3 linked regions of the Homo sapiens genome follow. The protein of the gene in region 2 interacts with the protein of the main gene of each other region in a biochemical or structural test. Each region holds a gene or a part of one and is shown on either strand. Other genes may lie near its edges.

Region 1 (7,110 bases), on a different chromosome or scaffold from region 2:
AAAGCCCAGGACTTTCTTCGACTCTTAAGAAAAGAGAAGCAAAGTAACTGGCACAGATTGGAGAGGATCAAGGAACCCCGAGCTGGATACATACAAACTTTGGGTTAACATGGATGATTAAATACATATGTTTATGTGAACCACCTCCCAAATATGCTCCACTATAATGACACAAGACAAAGGGCAGGGGGAGACCAATTGCAAGGTGGCGCAAATGAGAGATGCTACCAAGGGTGGCGGGGGAGAGAGGGGAGCAGTTGTCAAGTTAGGAGGCAACAGGCTGAGGGACAGGGACCAGCAGACGGGGAGGGAGGGGCTGAAGCAGAAGTGTCCAGTGTCTGGAGGGATGGGGCCAGAAAGGCAAGGGGCATCCTGAAGAAGCTATACCTGGGGAGGGCAGCTCTCTCCCCACCTGCTCCCCAATTCATCAGCCAGGAATGCCCCATCCACCCCACCCCAGGGAGGAGGACAGAGGACTTTCGTTTGGGAGCATTGAATGGTTCAGAGATTCTGCAACTCTGCGGTCCCCAACTAAACTGCTCATTGTTTCAAGCAGTCCCTGTTGGGTAAATGTCCCCCATTGTAACCGGACTCGGATTCCACCGCTTGAAAGCCAAATACAAGAGGAGAGGTTTGGTGGGAGGAAAAGTGGTTTTAACTAGAGCCAGCAAACCAAGAAGATGGTGAATTGTTGTTTTAAAGCATTCAATTATCTCAAATTTTAAAATTTATCATAGGATTCTGAAAGGAAAACTTGGTATGGGACATACGTGGGAGCAGTGCAGGGTACAGGGTCTATGTGTCTTGATCCAATGGCTGTCTTGAGTATCACCTATCCTGAGGTCTGGTTGGTGTTATCTTTCCTTCGGCCAGATGGTGGTGGGTGAATTGTTTCGACTCCCCCTAAGTTGGAGGATTCCGCAGGGGTTCCGTGTCTGGTTTTTGTTTCAAGATTAGCCCCTGGAATTCCCAAATAAGCATAGAGTTAGATAAGCGGGCATGGTGCAAAGGAGTGTCTAGTGGGAAAGGGAGAGAAGCAGAGTTTCAAAGTACATTTCAAGGTTACATTTTAAGACTAAAGAAAAAGCCTTAAAATGCATTTTTAAAGCTGATTTAATGCTTGGCTACACTAGGCTGTGGCCAGTGTGCAGTGTGGCTGCTCTTGGATCAGGTGATGTTTCATCAGCTGTGTCCAGGGAGGGCAGGGCCATGTGGCAGAACCTGGGACCTCTGTGTGAGGGACTACCTTGGCCCCTGTCCTTAGCAGGAAGCTATGGTAAGGAACCCTTAGGGAGACATTAAATTGGGGAGACCGTCCCTGCCAATCCTTTAACCTCCCCAGCCTCAGCGACCTCAGTTGGAAAGTGGTGGTAATAATACTACCACTGACCAGGTGTGGTGGCCAGACATTCCACACTTTGGCTTCAGCCGCTCCCTCCCCACTCTACTGTAATCCCAGCACTTTGGGAGGAAGAGGTAGGCGGAACCTGAGGTCTGGAGTTGAGACCAGCCTGGTCAACATGGTGAAACCCCATATCTACTAAAAAGAAAGTACAAAAAATTAGCCAGGTGCAGTGGCACACGTGTGTGGTCCCAGCTACTCGTGGGTCTGAGGCATGAAAATTGTTTGAGCCTGGGAGGCAGAGGTTCCATTGAGTGGAGATCGAGCCACTGCACTCCAGCCTGGGTGATAGAACGAGATTCTGTCTCAAAAAAATAAAAATAAAATAATAATAATAATACCACTGCCTGCCACACTAAGATTGTCTGATTAGATGACAGAATGAATGCAAAAGTACTTTGTGAATCATAAATGTTTTCATCAATATTAGTTATAATGACAATTGCTCCTTCTCCTAATAAATGTATTGCCTTTCTTTAGGAATAAATATAACAAGAAATGTGTAAGATATATATGAGAAAAATAATAAAATTCACCTGAAGGACATAAAAGAAGACCAAAATAAATGAAACAACACATACTTCTAGATGAGAAAACTCAATATTATAAAGAGGTTAGTTCTCTAAAATGAATCCCTAAACCCACAAAGTCAATGTATTTCCAATGAAATTGTCAACAGCATTATTTTCCGAAGTGGGATGAGTAGTGCTAAGATTTATAAGAAAGCCAACATTCCAGAGCAGTGGGGAAGGGATTGCTTCACCACCAAATAGCCATATTAGAGATTCCCTTGCACCATACCCAAACCACCATCTCCCAGGACCCGGGAGAGCAGAAAAGAGGAATGAGAAGAAAGGCGAGGATGTGAGGTGTGCCCTCATAATGGCGGTGCACGCAGCACAAGCAATTGCAGAAAGACTAAAGTACTGAACAAATAGAAAACTTGGAAAAATATTAGAAGGAAATGTGGGAGAACATTTTTGCAATTTGGGGATTGGAAACGGTTTTCTTAACAAGATATAAAAACCCCAAAACAAGAAAACAAAGGTTGAAATTCATAAAAACTAGATACTTCTGTATGATGAAAGACACGATTAATCAAGTTGTTAAGTTTAGCAATAGACTAGGGGAGATATCATAGTATATTTAACAGACAAAGGATTAATAGATACTACAGATGAAATATAAAATAGTTTCTCCAAGTCCATAGGCAGAAGATAATCCAATAGCAACATAGTTAAGTAATGTAAACAAATCATCCTTAGAAGAAGAAATGCAATCACCAAGAAACACATGAAAAGGTGTCCAGCATTTTGCAATTCAAGCAACAATGAGGTGACAGATCGGCAAAAAACTCATAAAGATTTATCATCTGAAGGATTGGCCAAGATAAAGCCAAACTTCTCGTGTTGGCAGAAGAAACTGGTGAAGCCATGTGAAGAGGCCACGTGGTCCTGCCTACCAAGATGTAAAATGTGTACAGCATTTGAACTAGCAATTCAGCCTCCAGGAGCCATCCAGAAGAAACACTGACACACACTTAGACTCCGGTGAAATTCAAGGACTTCTGCCACAGCCTGCTTCGTAATAGTGAAAATCTGAAACTGCCTCAATGACCGTCAATAGGAAGTTGATTTTAAAGTGTTACAGCACATCTGTCTGGAGAGATCGCACTGGCCACTCCTCCTCACCCCCTCTGCTGGACCTCTGAGCGTAGGTGGCCTGGAGCTGGGTCCTGAGCCCTCTTTGGTCTATACCGACACTACCCAATATGGTAGCCACCAGTCACGCTGGACACTTGAAAAGTGGCCGATCCTGACTGAGAAGGGCCACGAGTGGGAAAAACACACCAGACCTCAGTGACTTAGGCAGAAGTATGTTTTGTTCCAGACTATTGACTGAGCCCGCAGCTGAGTTGGCTCCAGCACCCTGGCCCCCTGCTCCATCCACTCACTGGGACTCCCCACTGCACAGGGCAACCTCTCCAGGGGCACTTGGGCTGCGAAGGGGAGAGTGGGTGGCATCCCAGGCTGAAGCTTCCTGAGCAGGGCCAGAGGAGGAGCCAGTCCCTGTGGGCCTCTGTTCTGACAGTGTCAACCTCAGCCAGGCTTGTGTGGGCCAGGTGTACTGTTCTGGTTCAGATTTCAAGGAGATAGTCAGGGCAGGCCGCGCCAAAGCCCTCCGATGGGCTCCCCTACTGCCTGGCAGACCTGTCCAGCTTTGGACTCTGGCCCTGCGACCTGGAAGTCAGGCTGCCAAGAGGTCCAGGCAGTGGCCTCCACTGTGGAGGGTCTCTGGAGAGTTTACAGCCCTAGATAGGGGGGTTAGGGATGTGAGATGGTCCCAGGGGCCTGCTCCTGAGCCACGCCAAGCTGCCTGCTCCCTTTCCTCTGCTTCCAGACTCACGGGATCCTCTGCTCATCAGAACAGGAGTGTGGGAGACCCTGAGACACTGCCCCAGGATCTGAACAGGTGGCAAAGGCTTAACAGGCTAGCGGTCACTGTAGTGACAAGGCGATTGAGTGGTCACCATGGTGATGGGGATGGAGGCTCTTTGCCACCAGTCCCAGTTTTATGCATGGCAGCTCTAATGACAGGATGGTCAGCCCTGCTGAGGCCACTCCTGGTCACCATGACAACCACAGGCCCTCTCAGGAGCACAGTAAGCCCTGGCAGGAGAATCCCCCACTCCACACCTGGCTGGAGCAGGAAATGCCGAGCGGCGCCTGAGCCCCAGGGAAGCAGGCTAGGATGTGAGAGACACAGTCACCTGCAGCCTAATTACTCAAAAGCTGTCCCCAGGTCACAGAAGGGAGAGGACATTTCCCACTGAATCTGTCTGAAGGACACTAAGCCCCACAGCTCAACACAACCAGGAGAGAAAGCGCTGAGGACGCCACCCAAGCGCCCAGCAATGGCCCTGCCTGGAGAACATCCAGGCTCAGTGAGGAAGGGTCCAGAAGGGAATGCTTGCCGACTCGTTGGAGAACAATGAAAAGGAGGAAACTGTGACTGAACCTCAAACCCCAAACCAGCCCGAGGAGAACCACATTCTCCCAGGGACCCAGGGCGGGCCGTGACCCCTGCGGCGGAGAAGCCTTGGATATTTCCACTTCAGAAGCCTACTGGGGAAGGCTGAGGGGTCCCAGCTCCCCACGCTGGCTGCTGTGCAGATGCTGGACGACAGAGCCAGGATGGAGGCCGCCAAGAAGGAGAAGGTATCTCGCCCTCCATTGGGCATTCTGGGAGTGTTTGCTTGCCTGTCCCCAACATTCCATGGTTTGTTTGAGCCTCAGAATCTGATTTTATGCACAGGCTCTTTGAGAAGGGTCTTGCCAGGGGTGCCTTCTGGGGCAGGAAGGCCCCTACTGCCTGGCAGACCCATCCAGCTTTGGACTCTGGTCCTGCGACCCGGAAGTCAGGCTGCCAAGAGGTCCAGGCAGTGGCCTCCACTGGGGAGGGGCTCTGGAGAGTTTAGAGCCCTAGATGTGGGGGTTAGGGACATGAGGTCTTGTGGACAAAGCCCACTACCTGATTTTGAGACAACACTCACTAGACATGGTGACAAGTCAAAGATGCCTTGCCTCCTACCAGGAATCACTTCGCAGGGAGCCCGAGGGCTGCTGTGGCCTGCTGAGGAGTGCAGGGCAGTTACTTTTTCCAAAAACAAAGAGAAATCCAGGCATGCTCTGAGCCAGCCCTGAGCCCAGCAGTGAGCAAGGAGAGAGCTGGAGACAGGGGACTTTGCTGTGAAACACTGGGGGGAATGTGCCTGCATCACCCCAGCTGGGGGCCCAGGCAGAGTGGGGGAGAAGGGGTAAGTGGGCAGAGCCAGTCACTTTGGGCATGCTTCCCTCTCGCCTCTGTGTGAAATGACCAGGTCAGCATAAACCCCGGGCTGGCTGTGCTTCTGGCAGAGCTAATGATGTTAGGAGGAAAACAACCAACCCAAGTGAGAGGGTGCGCAGCCAGACAGCTGGACCGGCCGAGGCCCCAACCAAGTCCCAGATCTGCCTGTCACTGGTGCTATGGCAGCAATTTGGATGAGAAATCCTGCCCAAAGGGCCCCTTCAGGCCACCCGGGGAGAAGGAAGCGGCTGTCTTTGGCATGACCAGAAAGATGGCTCGGAGCTAGGGAGAGGTGGACATGTGGGCTGTGGAGATCTGGCACTTTCCCCAAACAAGGAGAGAAAGCATAGTGTGCCTATGTGTGAATGTGCTATGTGTGCATGTTTGTGCCTGTGCATACCTGCATGTGTACATGCATGTGCACATATGTGTGCACAGGGAATCACTTTAATAAAGGCCACAGCAGAGCTGTCCCTGAGCCCCTTGCATTCACAGTGGCATGTGAGTGAACCACCTTCTTAGGCTGGGCATCCAGTCTCAGACTCTGGGGCTGCCCATGCCCCATCCTTTATCTGCTCCACGTGTGAGGGGTTGCTGGTCCTGACCAGGGCCAGCTGTGAACCCCAGAATCCTGGGAAGTCACTGACATTCTTGTCAGGGCCAAGAGTGGAGCAAGGCAATGCCTCGGGCACAAACTTTAAGGGGTCACCAGAAACATCAATCATCAAGATATATGCTATTTTAAATAATCAAAATGAATGCAAAAAAAATTTATGATGGACAACATACCAAATTCTAAACAAAGGCAGGATGAGTATCACTGGCTTCTGCACTTTTCTCCACCCAGTCTACCCCTCTTCTAGTGCCTGGATCGCAGGGTGCCAAGGCCTGGATGAGGGAAGCGTGGAGCTGCAATGGCCACTCCTGTCTGCCTGTTCTGGCTGCACAGAGGACTCAGTCCTTGTCTTGGGGGAACCTATCTTGGTTTTAGGGTCATCCTAAGGATCTGATGTTTTCCAAGTGAGCTGGCTGTCCAGGCCCACCCAGGTTCAGTCCAGTCCTGTGTCTCTGGGAAGTGCTGCCCCTACCCCAAGCCAGTGTTTGACCTTGGAGCAATGAGCAATGCCCTCCTTCCACTTTCAAAGTTGTCCCCAAGACGTCAGCTGTGGTTGTCTCTGTGCAGACACCGAGGAGGAACTGTCTTCTTTCTCCTTTTGGTTGCTTTGGAGGAAAGTAAAGTGTTGCTGGTTTCCCTCTTTCTACTTCTTTGATTGAGAGCAGCCGTCTTGCCGGTACCAACCTTCCAGATCTTACCTGTGGTTGCAGGAGCCTGTGGCCTCAGTCCTGTGCCCAGTGACTTCTCCATGTGGATGTCAGCTCCTTAGGGGCAAGCCTGATTCCACTGACACTACTCCCACCCCTCATAAGCCCCTTCTTACCAGCTGCAGTTGCCTGGTACCCCACCATCGCTGACTCATTCCTTTGGCATCAAGGTTCATCCCTTACTGGGCCACCACTTCTGGGTGGCCTGAAATAGGGCCCTGGGCATCCCTCTTGGGGACCTTTTGGTCTATATTTTCACTCTCACCTCACTAAGGACAGATGAGTAAATCTGGTTAACTTTGCCTGATAGATTTGGTGACCTTTTTTCAGGAAGGAGCCTGGAAAGATGAGATTCAGGTGTATTGGTCAGCTTAGACTGCCATAAGAGAATACCATCCACTGATGGCTTAGAAACAACAGAAATCTATTTCTCACTATTCTAGAGGCTGGACGTCCAAGATCAGATGCCAGCATGGTCAGGTTGCAGGGAGGGCTCTCTTCCTGACTTGCAGACCGCCACCTTCTTGCTGTGTCCT
Region 2 (7,026 bases):
GAAGTTCTAACCACTGCAATAAGGCAATAAAAGGAAATAAAAGGCATACGGTTTGGAAAATAATTTTTAAAAAATCCCTATTTGCAAATGTCATGATTGTCTACATAGAAATATCCCCCTAAACTACAGAAATTCCTCGAACTAACAAGTGAGTTCATCAAGGCTGCAAGATACAAGATCAACACACAAAGACAATCTTGAGACTTTCATTTCTGGCATGACAGCATGAGGAGCTCTAAAGACCCATTCTCTAATAAAACAAGCTCAGCTGGCAAAATTACAACACAACAACCTTTTAAAATCTCTGGAAATTGTCTTAATGGAATACAGTACATGAAGATATTTTTATTCAAGAAAATCTACTGAAATGTGGTAAGAACACAGTCTTTGATACATGTGCCATGCTACTGTTCCCGACCTTACTACTGTCCCCTCACTACTGGCTCCAAGCTTAGCTTGATAGAAGCTCCACTTAAGGTGTGTATAGCCAAGATGAAGCTCCCTTTCGTCTTGGAGAGAATGTCCCATCAATACTTTGGCATCTTACTGGAAGGAGCAGAGAGCTAGCATTTAGCATTCCCTTCAGCTCAGAATTGCAGAGGCTAAATTCCTGGCAAGTGTGGTTAAGAGGTTGGAGGATCCCTTCCTCCTCCCAGTTTTTACTCATAGAATGGAGGCTATATACCAGGTGCAATAGGCTAAGAATACTGAGGTCCTGATTACCCTCATTCCATCTTGCTCACAGGGTAGGTTCCACACCAGGATAGGCAAACTAAGACCAGAAGCTGCTGTCTCGCCCAGCACCCAGAACAGTGCTCAGACAGTATACCCATGGAGAGAAGAAATTCATAAGATGAGAGAGCTCTGAAACTCTCCCCCCAAAACTAACTTTATTTTTAACATAGTACAAAGAAGCTCAAGCCCAAGGATGTTCTCAAAAACTACAAGTTCACTTAACTAACAGCAACATAGGCCAGCTTGTTCATCAGAGAGAACAAGAGAGAGAGGGACAGGTAAGAAGAGCCCTTCTGGGGTATGAAGAAACCTCCAAGACTTACTTCACAAACTACTCCTGCTAGAGTTTAATTAGATAAGGCTGCTGGGCAATGCATGCTTCAGGACACTGCCAAACAAACAAACAAACAAAAAACAAAAACAAAATACAGCATTCAGCTAGTAATTAGTGGAGCCTAGAGTGTAATACCCCCATGTGGGCTGACAGCTTAATAGAGAGACTGGGAAAAAGTCAAAGAAAGCCCAAATTACCTGCAAGCCAAAAACTATGCACTCCAAGAAGCAACACTGAAGGGTTCACACTGCAGGGAAACATACTTTAAAAATAGCCTAGCCAAGTCACAAAGCAAAGAGTTATATAGAAATAAGGAAATGATACCAGAAGGTAATTCAAACCCACAGGAACAAATGAAAATAATAGAAAATAATAAATACATACATGTTCTCCTTAATTTTCTCAGCTTCCTTAAAACATAAAATTATATAAAATAATACTTATAATGATGTATTATTTAGTTTTTAGCATATACAGATATAATATATATATTATAATAGCTCAAAAAGGAAGGTGAAAGAGAGCTATATATGAGTAAAATTTTTATATCTCATTGAAATTAAATTAGTACAAATCTGAAGCACACTGATGTATGATGTATGTGAAAAGCCCTAGAACAACCACGAAGAATATACCTAAAAAATATATAATAAAAAATGATCAAATGAATTAAAAAGTTAAACTAGAATAATTCATTTAATGCAAAAGAAAGCAGTAAAGGAAGAATAGAGAGAAAAAGACATGAGCTCTATGGAAAAATAAAACTGCATATTTAAACCAACTATATCAATAATGATTTTAAATCAGAACAGATTAATCAACCCAATCAAAAGGTAGAGAATATCTAACTGAATACAAACAAACAAGATCCAACTGCATGCTGCCTACAGAAGATAGGTTTTAGACTGAAAGATACAAGGCAGGCCTGGTGGCTCACGCCTATAATCCGAGCACTTTGGGAAACCAAGGTGGGAGGATCCCTTGAGTCCAGAAGTTTGAGACCAGCCTGGGCAACATAGTGAGACTCCATCTCTATTCTAAAAAAGAAAGAAGAAAAAAGAGAAAGAAGCAAATAGATTAAAAGTAAAATAACGTAAGTAATACATCATGCAAACAACAACCACAAGAAATTTGGAGTGACCATACTAATATGAGACAAAATGGATGTTCAAAAACATTACTAGAGATATATAGGGACATTCAATAATGACAAAAGGGTCAATCCATAATGAATATATCACAAGTATAAACGTATATGCCTAAACAACAGAGCTGCCAAATACATGAAGCAAAACTGGCAGAATTGAAGGGAGAAATAGACAATCCACTGACAATAGTTGGAAACTTCAAGACCACTCTTTCAATAATGGATAGAACAACTACATAGAAGATCAACAACAGGGAAATAGAGGACTTCAACACAAAGTAGTAATAACAAACATCTGTAAAACACTCCATCTCCAAACAGCAGACTATACATTTTTCCAAAGTGTACATCAAACATGCTCCAAGAGAGACAATATTCTAGGCCATAAAAGAAGCTTCAATAAATTTGGAAGAATGGAAATCATATAAAGTATGTTCTCCAATCATAATGGAGTAAAATAAAAAATTAATAACAGAGAGAACTTTGGGAAATTCACAAATATGGGAACCTAAAGGAAACAGAAGAAGGATATAATAAGGATTAGAGGTGAAAATAATAAAACAGAGACTAGGAAAACATTAGAAAAAAATCAACAAAATCAAAAGTTGGTTATTTGAAAAAATTAATAAACTTGACAAACCTTTAGTGAGACTGACCAAGAAAAAAAAGAGAAAACTCAAATTAATAAATTCAGGAAAAAAAGAGGAGACATTACTACTGACTTTATGAAAATAAAAAGAATTATAAGGGAATATTATGAACAATCATAAACTGTATGCCAACACAATAAATGCCTTAGGTGAAATAGATAAATTATTAGAATGATACAAACTCTCAAAACTGACTAAAAAAGAAATGAAATCTAAATAGATCTATAACAAGGGGTTGAATAAGTAATGAAAAACCTTGCCAGAAAGAAAAGTCCAGGATTAGATGGTTTCACTGGTGAATTCTACAAACATTTAAAGAATAATACGATTCTTCAAAAGCTCTTTCAAAAAGTAGAAGAGGAAGAAGCACTTCCCAACTCATTCTATGAGGCCAGTATTTCCGTGCTACCAAAGTTAGGCACATATATTAGAAGAAAAGAAAATTATAGACCAATAGCTGTTGTGAATATGGATGTAAAAATCCCCACAAAACACTAGCAAACTGAACCCAGGAATGTATAAAAGGATTTATATGTATACATTATATATATGTATATATTATACTTATACTTTTTACATCACAATCAAGTTAGATTTATTATAGGAATGCAAGCTTGATTTAACCTTTGAAAATCAATTAATGCAACAGATCACATCAATAGAATTAAGGACAAAAAAACCAAATGATCATCATAATAGGCACAGATAAAGCATTTGGGAAATTAAATACCCCTTCATGATAAAACCAACAACAAATTAAAACTAGAAGGAAAGGCCCTAAACCTAATAAAAGACACCAATGAAAAACCCACAGTGAATATCACACTTAATGGTGAAAGATTGAATAGTTTCTCCCATGCCGCCTGCCAAGATCAGTAACAACAGAAGGATGTCTGTTTTCATCTCATCTTTTCAACATTCTAGTAGAGGTTATAGCCAAGGTAATTAGGTAAGAAAAAGAAAATAAAAGGCATCTGGATTGGAAAGGAAGAGATGAAATTATTTCTATTTGCAGATAACATAATCTTGTATATAGAAAATCCCAAGGAATGCACTAAAAAACACCATTGGACCTAATAAATGAGTCCAGCAATGTTGCAGAATATAAGATCAATATATAAAAATCAATTACATTTCTATAAAGTAGCCATGAGCAAACAAAATGAAATTAAGTAAAACAATTTTATTTACAATAGCATCAAAACAATAAAATGCTTAAAAGAACACTTTAAAAAATGTAAAACACTCTGAAAACTGCAAAACATTGGTGAATATAATTAAAGACCTAAGTAAATGCAACAACATCTCATGTTCAGGGACCTAAAACTTATTATTGTTAAGATGGTAATATTCCCTAACTAATCTATAGATTAAATGCAGCTTCTGTCAAAGTTTCAGCTTAATTCTTTGCAGAAATTAATAAATTGGTCTTAAAATTTATATGGAAATGCAAAGGACCTAGAATAGCCAAAACAATCATAAAAACAATCTGAAAAAGACCAAAATTAGAAGACATACTTCCCAATTTCAAAATTACAATTAAACTACAATAATCAAGAATGTGTGGTACTGGTATAAGGGTAGAGATACATATAAACAAATGGAATAGAACTGAGAGCCCAGAAGTAAACCCTTCAACTTATAGTCACCTGATTTTCATCAAGGGTGCCAAGACAATTAAGTAGGGGAAAGAAGAGTCTTTTCAAAAAATGCTGCTAGGACAACTGGATAGCCACATGCAAAAGAACGAAGCTGGATTCCCATCTCACACCACATGCAAATATTAACTCAGAATAAATTGAAAAACCTAAATGTAAGAGCCAAGACTATAAAACTCTTAGAAAAAAGCCTAGGCATATATCTTTGTGACTTTGCATGCTACAACATGGATTAACCTTGAAAACATGCCCAAAGAAACGAGCCAGATACAAAAGGCCACATATTGTATGATTCCCCTTATATAAAATGTCCAGAATAGGCAAATTCATTGAGACTGAAAGTAGATTAGTGGTTGCCAGGGGCTAAGGGGAGAGGGTCATCTGGAGTGAGTCTAGAGTATGGAATTCCTTTTTGGCATAAAGAAAATGTCCTGGAATTAGTGGTGATGGTTACACAACTATGTGAATATACTCAAAACCACTGTATACTTCAAAATGGTGAATTTTATGGTATGTGAATTATATCTCTATCAAAAACAATTTTTTAAATGTAGGAAAACACATACCAGGCAAATATTAAGCTAAATAAAGCTAATGTAGGTATATTAATATGAGAAAAAAGATTGATTATAGGGCAAAAACATCAATGATACCAAATTACCAGGTATTACCAGAGTTAATAATTTCCTTACATGGTGATAAAATATTCAATTCACAAGGAAGATATAGCAATTCTAAATTTGTTTGTAACTACGAACTTTCAAGATTGACAGAATTACAAGGAAACATTAACAAATTTTCCATATCAACAGGCAGCCAAAACCCCAGAAGAATATAGAACATTTGAGCCAGATTAACAAACACAACTTAATCGAGGTATATAGTACACTAAACACAACTGTAAAACGCACATTCTTTTCAAGTGCTCTTGGAACATTTACCAGATTGTCCATAAGTTGGTCCATAAAGCAAGTCTCAACAGATTTCAAAGAACTGAAATAATACAAAGTTTGTTCTCTGACCAGAATGGAATTAAAATAGAAATGACAAGAGCACTGATCTATCAAAACAGAAGCTGGTCCAAGGGCTGGCACCAAGTACTGGAGGCCTCCTGCTGTGGTAGGCATTAATCCTTTAGTTGCTAGATGATAATCAGTAGGTCCTGGCTATCCTGGGAAAGGAATTGAGGTGGCCAGGGTAACTGGGTAAGTGTTGGAGAGACTAAAAAAGCCTGGGAGAGTGCCTATTTATAAAATGGACTAGAAATATTCTGAAAATTCATATGGCCATACGATTGTGAATCTGTGGAATATCAGCCCTGTTTAGTAGGCCAATTATCTCATTGGACACTTAAATTAGAAAAGAAGAAAGTCTGAAAATGAATGAGCTGAGCAGCAGGCAACTCTATGAGTTAAAAAAGAACAACAGAATAAATCCAAAGAAAGTAGGAGAAACAGAATAATGATGAAAAAATAGTTAAATAGAAAATAAAGATAAAAAAGGATCAAAAAGTCAAAAGTTGATTATTTTAGAATTATAAAAGTGTCAAACTTATAGCAAGATTGATCAAGAGAAAAAAGGTGCAAATAAATAATATTATAATGAAAGAGAAGCTATAACTACAAATGCAACAGAGATAAAAAAGATACAAAGATAAGAACTTTACACAAAATAAATTTGAAAACTATGTGAAGTAGAAAAATTCATAGAAAACCATAACTTAGGAAAGCTTAAGAAAGCTAACTTTAGTGGAAATAGCAAACTGAAAGGACTCTATAACTGATAAAAGAGATTGTATCAGTTAAAATGTTAAAGGAGACACCAGGTCCAGATATTTTACCTGGAAATGCTGCCAGGTAAAATATTTGAGGAATGGCTAGTTCTGCAGACAACCTCTGTCAGAGGACAGAATGAAAGGAAATAGTTCCCACCTGATTTTATGAGGTTAGTGTAATCTTGACACTCTTGGAAAAATCACAGGCCAATCTCTTTCCTGAGCAAAATGCTAAAATCCTAAACAAAAAATTAGTGAAAGAAATTCAGAAGTTTTTATTTATCCCAGGACTGCAAGATTATTTCAACACAAGAAAAACTCTAATGTATTGTACCACATTAATGGGTTAAAATAGAAAATTAATGTCATTTCAGTGAATACAGAAAACATGTTTAATAAAATTCAATATTCATTCATCTTTTAAAAATTGTATTGGCAAACTCAGAATAAACAGGAACGTCTTTAACCTATTAAATGATATCTACCAAAAAAACTACAGCAAATTTGCTCAATGGTGAAACTTAAAATCGGGATCAGCATAAGAATATACATTATTAACATTTCTTTTCAACGTGTACTGCACATCTCGTGTGTGTATATTAAAGGCGGGAGGTCTTAGCAGTGTAATAATATAAGAAAGATAAAAATGAGGGTTGTGGGGAAAATGAAAGCTGTCATTTACATACAAATTATCAAAACTCATAAGAAAGTTTAGCAGGTTTGCTAGT
Region 3 (7,026 bases), on a different chromosome or scaffold from region 2:
AGCTCATTGCTCATTGCATTGCAAGCTCCGCCTCCCGGGTTCACACCATTCTCCTGCCTCAGCCTCCCGAGTAGCTGGGGACTACAGGCGCCCGCCACCACGCCCGGTTACTTTTTTGTATTTTTTTTAGTTTCACCATGTTGGCCAGGATGGTCTCGATTTCCTGACTTTGTTATCCACCCGCCTTGGCCTCCCAAAGTGCTGGGATTAATTTTATCATTTTCAAAGTCATATGAAGCTGTTCTCTTTGCACATTTTAAAATATTCTATTTAGAGTAAAGAAAGTTTATATTAGAGAATTAGGAACATTTGGAAAAGTAGAAATAAAAACTTGTTCTATTCTCATAGTCGTATTGTACATAGCACGTGTGTGTGTATTTTTAACCCATTTTCTTCTTCGGAATCTTTTTTTTTTTTTTTTTTTTGAGATGGAGTCTCACTCAGCTGCCCAGGCTAGAGTGCAGTGGCGTGATCTTGGTTCACTGTAACTTCTGCCCCCTGGTTCAAGTGATTCTCCTGCCTCAGCCTCCTGAGTAGCTGAGACTACAGGCACCTGCCACCACGCCCGGCTAATTTTTGTATTTTTACTAGAGGCGGGGTTTCACTATGTTGGCCAGACTGGTCTCGATCCCTTGACCTCATGGTCCACCCGCCTTGGCCTCCCAAAGTCCTGGGATTACAGGTGTGAGCCACCATACCTGACCCAGAATCTTTTCTTATGCACAGCATGCAGTAAAGGTGCCCAAACTGTAGGTGCCCAGGTGGCCCAGGACCCTTTCTTGGCTGCCTGCAGACCCTGGGTCCCTTCCTGCACTGTGCCCCCTACACCCTGCTGCCCTGGGTCAGGGCAGAGGTTAGACTGCCTGCCGTTGAGCCTGACGCATGCATTTCCTTCTGTCTGCCTTCTGCTTATTGCTGTGTCTGTGATATTTATCCACATAGTTGTGTTTTCTAGTCTTGAAATTATTTAAAAAATATGTAATAGATACATATAAAGTATGTATGTATGTTTAAAAATATGTAATGCATGGGCCAGGCGCGGTGGATCACGCCTATAATCCCAGCACTTTGGGAGGCTGAAGTGGGTGGATCATGAGGTCGGCAGATGGAGACCATCCTGGCTAACACGGTGCAACCCCGTCTCTACTAAAAATACAAAAAATTAGCCAGGCATGGTGGCGGGCGCCTGTAGTCCCAGCTACTCGGGAGGCTGAGGCAGGAGAATGGTGTGAACCTGGGAGGCGGAGCTTGCAGTGAGCCTAGATCGCGCCACTGCACTCCAGCCTGGGCGACAGAGTGAGACTCCGTCTCAAAAAAAAAAAAAAAATGTAATACATGCATATGTGTTTTTTTAATTATAGAAGAATAATGGTAAAAGCAATAGTTCCCCTGGCCGTCTTCCAATCCCCCTCCTCCAATCCTACTCTTTCCCCCAGGGGACCGCAGTCAGCAGTTAGAGCCTTCCAGGCCTTCTTTCTTGTGCATTTAACTATAGTTGTATATTATACTTCTATGTGTGCATGTGCATATGTGTGCTCACATGTAACTGCTTCTGTTCCCTGAGCACGGCTGGGATTATACCATACACAGTGTCCTAAATGTGTGTGTATGTGTACGCACACACATGTCCTGCAGATCTTCCTCTACAGGCCTCCTCGGAACCGAAGCCTCCTGGATGGCACCCTAGCTCATGGGCCACTTTCCCACTGGCCGATGTGCCGGTGCTTTCTCTTGTTTGCTTAGCCTCCCTGATTTTCCCTTTGCCACTGTGGGTCCGCGTTGAGTGGCGTGAGAGGGTAGCTGTTGGCTCTATTTGCTCTACTTCCACTGCGAGTGGAACAGAGCAGGCGCTCAACACGTGAGTTTTCAATATTACTATGAATAATATTGCTGTGCGCACCTCTCCAGAGGTGCCACCAAGCTGAAGTGGGGCGGCCGTGGTTGAGGGCCCAAGTCTGACCCGTGGGTGCTCAACAGCACTAGCGGCCGGGCCCCCTTGCCAGTGCTCCCGTTGTCTGGGACATCTTGGTGGACAGAGGCCACGTGGCCCGTTGCTATCCTCAGGACCTTGGACACAACTCATCTTCCAGGACTTGGTGGTACCAAGGGAGTTGCCCAAGATCAGCCAATTCCTAGTCTTTCTATTGCATTGGACGTTTCTGGATGTCACAGTTCTGAGAGTTTGATTAGCATCCACTGCACAGCTAGTGCAGTTATGACTATAGAGATTTATCCATTCATTCCCCGCTCAGTCATTCACTCACTCGTTCGCTTATTCAACAAATAAGCATTACAGAAGACTTGGGGTGTGTCCCTAAGAATTGTAGTCTGGTCAGGACAATAAGCTGAAACAGTAAGACAGAACAGGGTTAGGAAGCATGAAGGAAGGAGGTGAGCTGTACGGAGTGCTTTTGTGTTTTAGGGACTACGTTGGGTGCTTCCTCGTAAGTTGTCTCCTTTAGTTCTCCTGGTAATCCTGGGAGTGTAGTCTGATTTTTAGCAAATGGATGCTGAAGCTGAGTGAATTGTTACACTGGGCATCAGGTCCTCGAAGAGACCCCAGGTGATGTGCTCAGACAGCAGGTGGGGGTCTCGGGTCTCCACGGGGGTCAGGTCCTGGTGCTTCCCCACTGGAGGACCTACGGTCCCTGGGGCTGCCCTGGGTTGAGGTCCCAGCAGCTCAAGGCCTGTGTGCAGTCGGCAGATCACATCCTTCATGCCCTGACTGCATGCTGGCCAGAACTGAGTGGCGTGGCGATGCCTGGCTGCCAGGGCAGCTGGAGGATGTCCTCATGTTTCCTGAGTTGCTGTCATGCTGAAAGTCAGAGATCCACAGTTTCACAATCTCTTAGCCAAAATTATGAAATCCAAAAAGCCCCCAACACTGAAATATTTTTCTTAGAATTGATGCTAAAAGCATTGGACGGTCAAATTGGCCCTAAGCACGTGAGAAGCTGTTTGTGGTTTTCCCTTGACCTCTGCAGTTTGAGTGTTCAGAGGCCTTGCTGCAGACACAGGGCAGTGGATGCCCGTGAAGCCCTCTCCCCAGCCTGCTGGGGTCTCCCTAGCAAGTGGTCATATGACTTTTCTGAAATCCCCAAACACATCTGGCCCAAGGGTTTTGATGGAAGGGCCGTGGACCCAGGTGACTGTGGAGAGAACGGGTACTGAGGCTGCAGCAGCCCGCTAAGGCCCCAAGAGCATGGGTGAAGATGCAGTGCTGCCCAGGGGCCTCAGCTTTGTGTCTGGACTGTGCCCCAGAAGTTGCCCAGACTCTTTGGCAAGGGGCTTTGTGAGACCCTCGTGGTGTGCATTCGCCTCCTGTCTTACCTGATCCTGCAGGAGGATGTGCAGTTTCCTAGCATTTGCATGGGGTTTGTCTCAAGCATGGGATGGATGGAGAGCGGGAGAGGGAGGTACAGGGGAGAGAGAGATGGGAGACATGGAGGGAGAGAGGCGGGAGACATGGAGGGAGAGAGGCAGGCAGACGCAGACCCTCAGCCTCCCCCTCAGTTCCCCTCAGAAAACTGCTTTTCCTCAGAACTTGGCTCACAATCCCTTTCTCTGTGGAACCCACCCTTGGGTTGTATCCTTCCTCTTCCGTCTTTTTTTTTTTGAGATGGTCTTGGCCATTGCCCAGGCTGGAGTGCAGTGGTGCGATCACAGCTCACTGCAGCCTAGACTCCTGTGCTCAAGCGAGGTTCCCGCTTCAGCCTCCCAAGTAGCTGAGACTACAGGTGTGTGTCACCACGCTGGCTAATTTTTAAATGTTTTGTAGAGACGAGGTCTCACTATGTTGCCCAGGCTGGTCTCGAACTCCTGGGCTCAGCCTCCCACAGTGCTGGGATTACAGGTGTGGGCCACTGTGCCCGATCCTGTCCTCTTTCTGAGCCTCTGGTATACCTTTATTAGGTTGCTGATGTTAACCTGTGTGTCTGTCCCCGAGTGAGGTGGTGCGGTCACATTCTGTGCATCTGGTGCCCAGTGTCAGTCTGTCATGTGGAGGCCAGTGGCTGGGCTGACAGGAGGCCTGGGTCCCTTGGCTCTGTGATCATCCTGTCTGGACTGTGGCAGCCTCCTCATGGGTCACCATGTGCTGAATGCTGGAGGACATTGTGTGCCACCTCTTAGGAGCCGCCCTCACCAGCCTCCTCTCTCTTTTTCGGCCCGTGTCCCCTTCTTTTTTTGTTTGTGTTTGAGACGGAGTCTCACTCTGTCACCCATCTCACCAGTGAGCTGGTACAATCTCAGCTCACTGCAACCTCTGCCTCCCAGGCTCAAACCATTCTCCTGCCTCAGCCTCCAAGTAGCTGGGATTATAGGTGCCTGCCACCTCACCGGGCTAATTTTTGTATTTTTAGTAGAGACAGGACTTTGCCATGTTGGCCAGTCTGGTCTCGAACCTCCTGACCTCAAGTGATCTGCCCACCTCGGCCTCCCAAAGTGCTGGGATTACAGGCGTGAGCCACCACGCCCGGCCCCCTGGCCCCTGGCCCCTTCTGTGTGGGCCCCATCTGAGAGCCATTTCCCAAATCTGAGAGCCATTTCCCTAGTCGGCTGTGAAATCGGATGGTGTTTGTAGTCAATCAGTTGTTTTTTTACTGTTGTGGAGTTTACCAGGGACTCTCCAATCTCTCTCTCGTTTCCTCTCACACCTCCTCAAGGCAGCAGCACGGACTTCCCCTTGCAGGTGGGGCCGAGGCTAGGCTGCACGGCTGACGGGGGGTTTGGGGGCCCTGAGATGAAGCGAGAGCGCTGACCAAAGCATTGGCAAGTTCTCCTGTACTTTACTGTTGGGCTTTTGGTAGCATTCTCTGCAAAATCATTTCTAAATGTGGACTTAATTTGGAGAAATTTGAGACTAAGTGCTTTATTTTTTAACTTGGTCACAAAATTTGGTCTTTTTCTTGTTATAAATTGGTGGCATTAAATGCTTTGTACTTAGTTCTAATGGAGAATCGGTGCAATCTCTCCTTTTGACTCATCTGTGGCCCTACATGATGGTCACCCATGTCATTATCCCCAGGGTGGACAATGTCCCAGAAGGAAGCCTGCCAGTGCACGGTGAACAGGCGCTGCCCAAGGACCAGCAAATCACTGCCTTGGGGAGAGAGGAACCTGTGGCAATAGAGAGCCCCGGACAGGATCTTCTGGGAGAAAGCAGGTCTGAACCAGTGGATGTGAAGCCATTTGCTTCCTGCGAAGATTCTGAAGCTCCAGTCCCAGCTGAGGATGGGGGCAGTGATGCTGGCATGTGTGGCCTGTGTCAGAAGGCCCAGCTAGAGCGGATGGGAGTCAGTGGTCCCAGCGGTTCAGACCTTTGGGCTGGGGCTGCCGTGGCCAAGCCCCAGGCCAAGGGTCAGCTGGCGGGGGGCAGCCTCCTGATGCACTGCCCTTGCTATGGGAGTGAATGGGGCTTGTGGTGGCGAAGCCAGGACTTGGCCCCCAGCCCCTCTGGGATGGCAGGCCTCTCGTTTGGGACACCTACTCTAGATGAGCCGTGGCTGGGAGTGGAAAACGACCGAGAAGAGCTGCAGACCTGCTTGATTAAGGAGCAGCTGTCCCAGTTGAGCCTTGCAGGAGCCCTGGATGTCCCCCACGCCGAACTCGTTCCGACAGAGTGCCAGGCTGTCACCGCTCCTGTGTCGTCCTGCGATCTGGGAGGCAGAGACCTGTGCGGTGGCTGCACGGGCAGCTCCTCAGCCTGCTATGCCTTGGCCACGGACCTCCCTGGGGGCCTGGAAGCAGTGGAGGCCCAGGAGGTTGATGTGAATTCGTTTTCCTGGAACCTCAAGGAACTCTTTTTCAGTGACCAGACAGACCAAACGTCATCAAATTGTTCCTGTGCTACGTCTGAACTCAGAGAGACACCCTCTTCCTTGGCAGTGGGCTCCGATCCAGATGTAGGCAGTCTCCAGGAACAGGGGTCGTGTGTCCTGGATGACAGGGAGCTGTTACTACTGACCGGCACCTGTGTTGACCTTGGCCAAGGCCGACGGTTCCGGGAGAGCTGTGTGGGACATGATCCAACAGAACCGCTTGAGGTTTGTTTGGTGTCCTCTGAGCATTATGCAGCAAGCGACAGAGAAAGCCCAGGACACGTTCCTTCCACGTTGGATGCTGGCCCTGAGGACACGTGCCCATCAGCAGAGGAGCCAAGGCTGAACGTCCAGGTCACCTCCACGCCCGTGATCGTGATGCGCGGGGCTGCTGGCCTGCAGCGGGAGATCCAGGAGGGTGCCTACTCCGGGAGCTGCTACCATCGAGATGGCTTACGGCTGAGTATGTCCCGGGCCCCATAGGAAGAAGTGTGGTGCTCCCAGAGCACAGTGCAGTGGGGGTGCAGGGCCTTCCTTGTTCTGGGGTCTGATGGGGTTTCACCCTGGAATAGTGTTAGCAGAAATCATGTTTTCAAGGAGAATGCATATCATCCACCCCTAGAAAATTAAGATTACGAATGTGTGTGCCTGGGGAGGGTGGCGCCCAAGGTCCCAGGCCACCTGCCCCATGCCCGTCAGTTCCAGCTGTGCCCCCTGACTCAGGCCATACACTTAGAGAGCCGCTCCTCCCAGCAGCCTGGGGAGATCCCGTCGGGAGCAGGAGAAGCGTGGGGGTGTCACGCTAGAGTCTGTCTCTCCACCTCCCACCAGCCCCCACCTCAGTGGTCACACAGACAGGCCGAGAGGGATGTGAGCGTGGTGAGATGCTCACGTGTTCTTCTTCCGTGCTTTTGGTGTTTAGGCTGCCCTGATCTCTGAAAAACCTGCCCTTCTGTGAGGGTCATGTGATCGGGCCCCTCTGCTTGCCCCTTTGAGATTGATTCTGTTTTACTTTCTTTTTTATTTTCATTTCTTTTTTTTTTTTTTTTCTTTTTTTTTGAGACAGAGTCTCTCTCTGTTGCCCAGGCTGGAGTGCAGTAGCGCGATCTCAGCTTACTGCAAGCTCCGCCTCCCGGGTTCATGCCATTCTCCTGCCTCAGCCTCCCTAGTAGCTGGGACTACAGGCACCCACCAGCACGCCCGGCTA

Evidence for each region. The genes of interacting proteins can lie anywhere in the genome.
Region 1: the proteins of PFKFB1 (region 2) and GCK form a complex in vitro, tested with the Homo sapiens proteins (one study listed by IntAct).
Region 3: of the proteins of PFKFB1 (region 2) and PASK, one has a biochemical effect on the other in vitro, tested with the Homo sapiens proteins (one study listed by IntAct).

Annotation. Positions count from the first base shown.
Region 1 is NC_000007.14:44,186,419-44,193,528, reverse strand, and holds the start of GCK (hexokinase-4), read left to right. Parts: upstream 1-4,089; 5' UTR 4,090-4,575; coding exon 4,576-4,620; intron 4,621-7,110. UniProt on the Homo sapiens protein: Catalyzes the phosphorylation of hexose, such as D-glucose, D-fructose and D-mannose, to hexose 6-phosphate (D-glucose 6-phosphate, D-fructose 6-phosphate and D-mannose 6-phosphate, respectively).
Region 2 is NC_000023.11:54,984,184-54,991,209, forward strand, and holds part of PFKFB1 (6-phosphofructo-2-kinase/fructose-2,6-bisphosphatase 1), read right to left. Parts: intron 6,538-7,026; exon of another isoform or gene 6,456-6,537; intron 1-6,455. UniProt on the Homo sapiens protein: Synthesis and degradation of fructose 2,6-bisphosphate.
Region 3 is NC_000002.12:241,125,452-241,132,477, reverse strand, and holds part of PASK (PAS domain-containing serine/threonine-protein kinase), read left to right. Parts: intron 1-5,026; coding exon 5,027-6,282; intron 6,283-7,026. UniProt on the Homo sapiens protein: Serine/threonine-protein kinase involved in energy homeostasis and protein translation. Phosphorylates EEF1A1, GYS1, PDX1 and RPS6.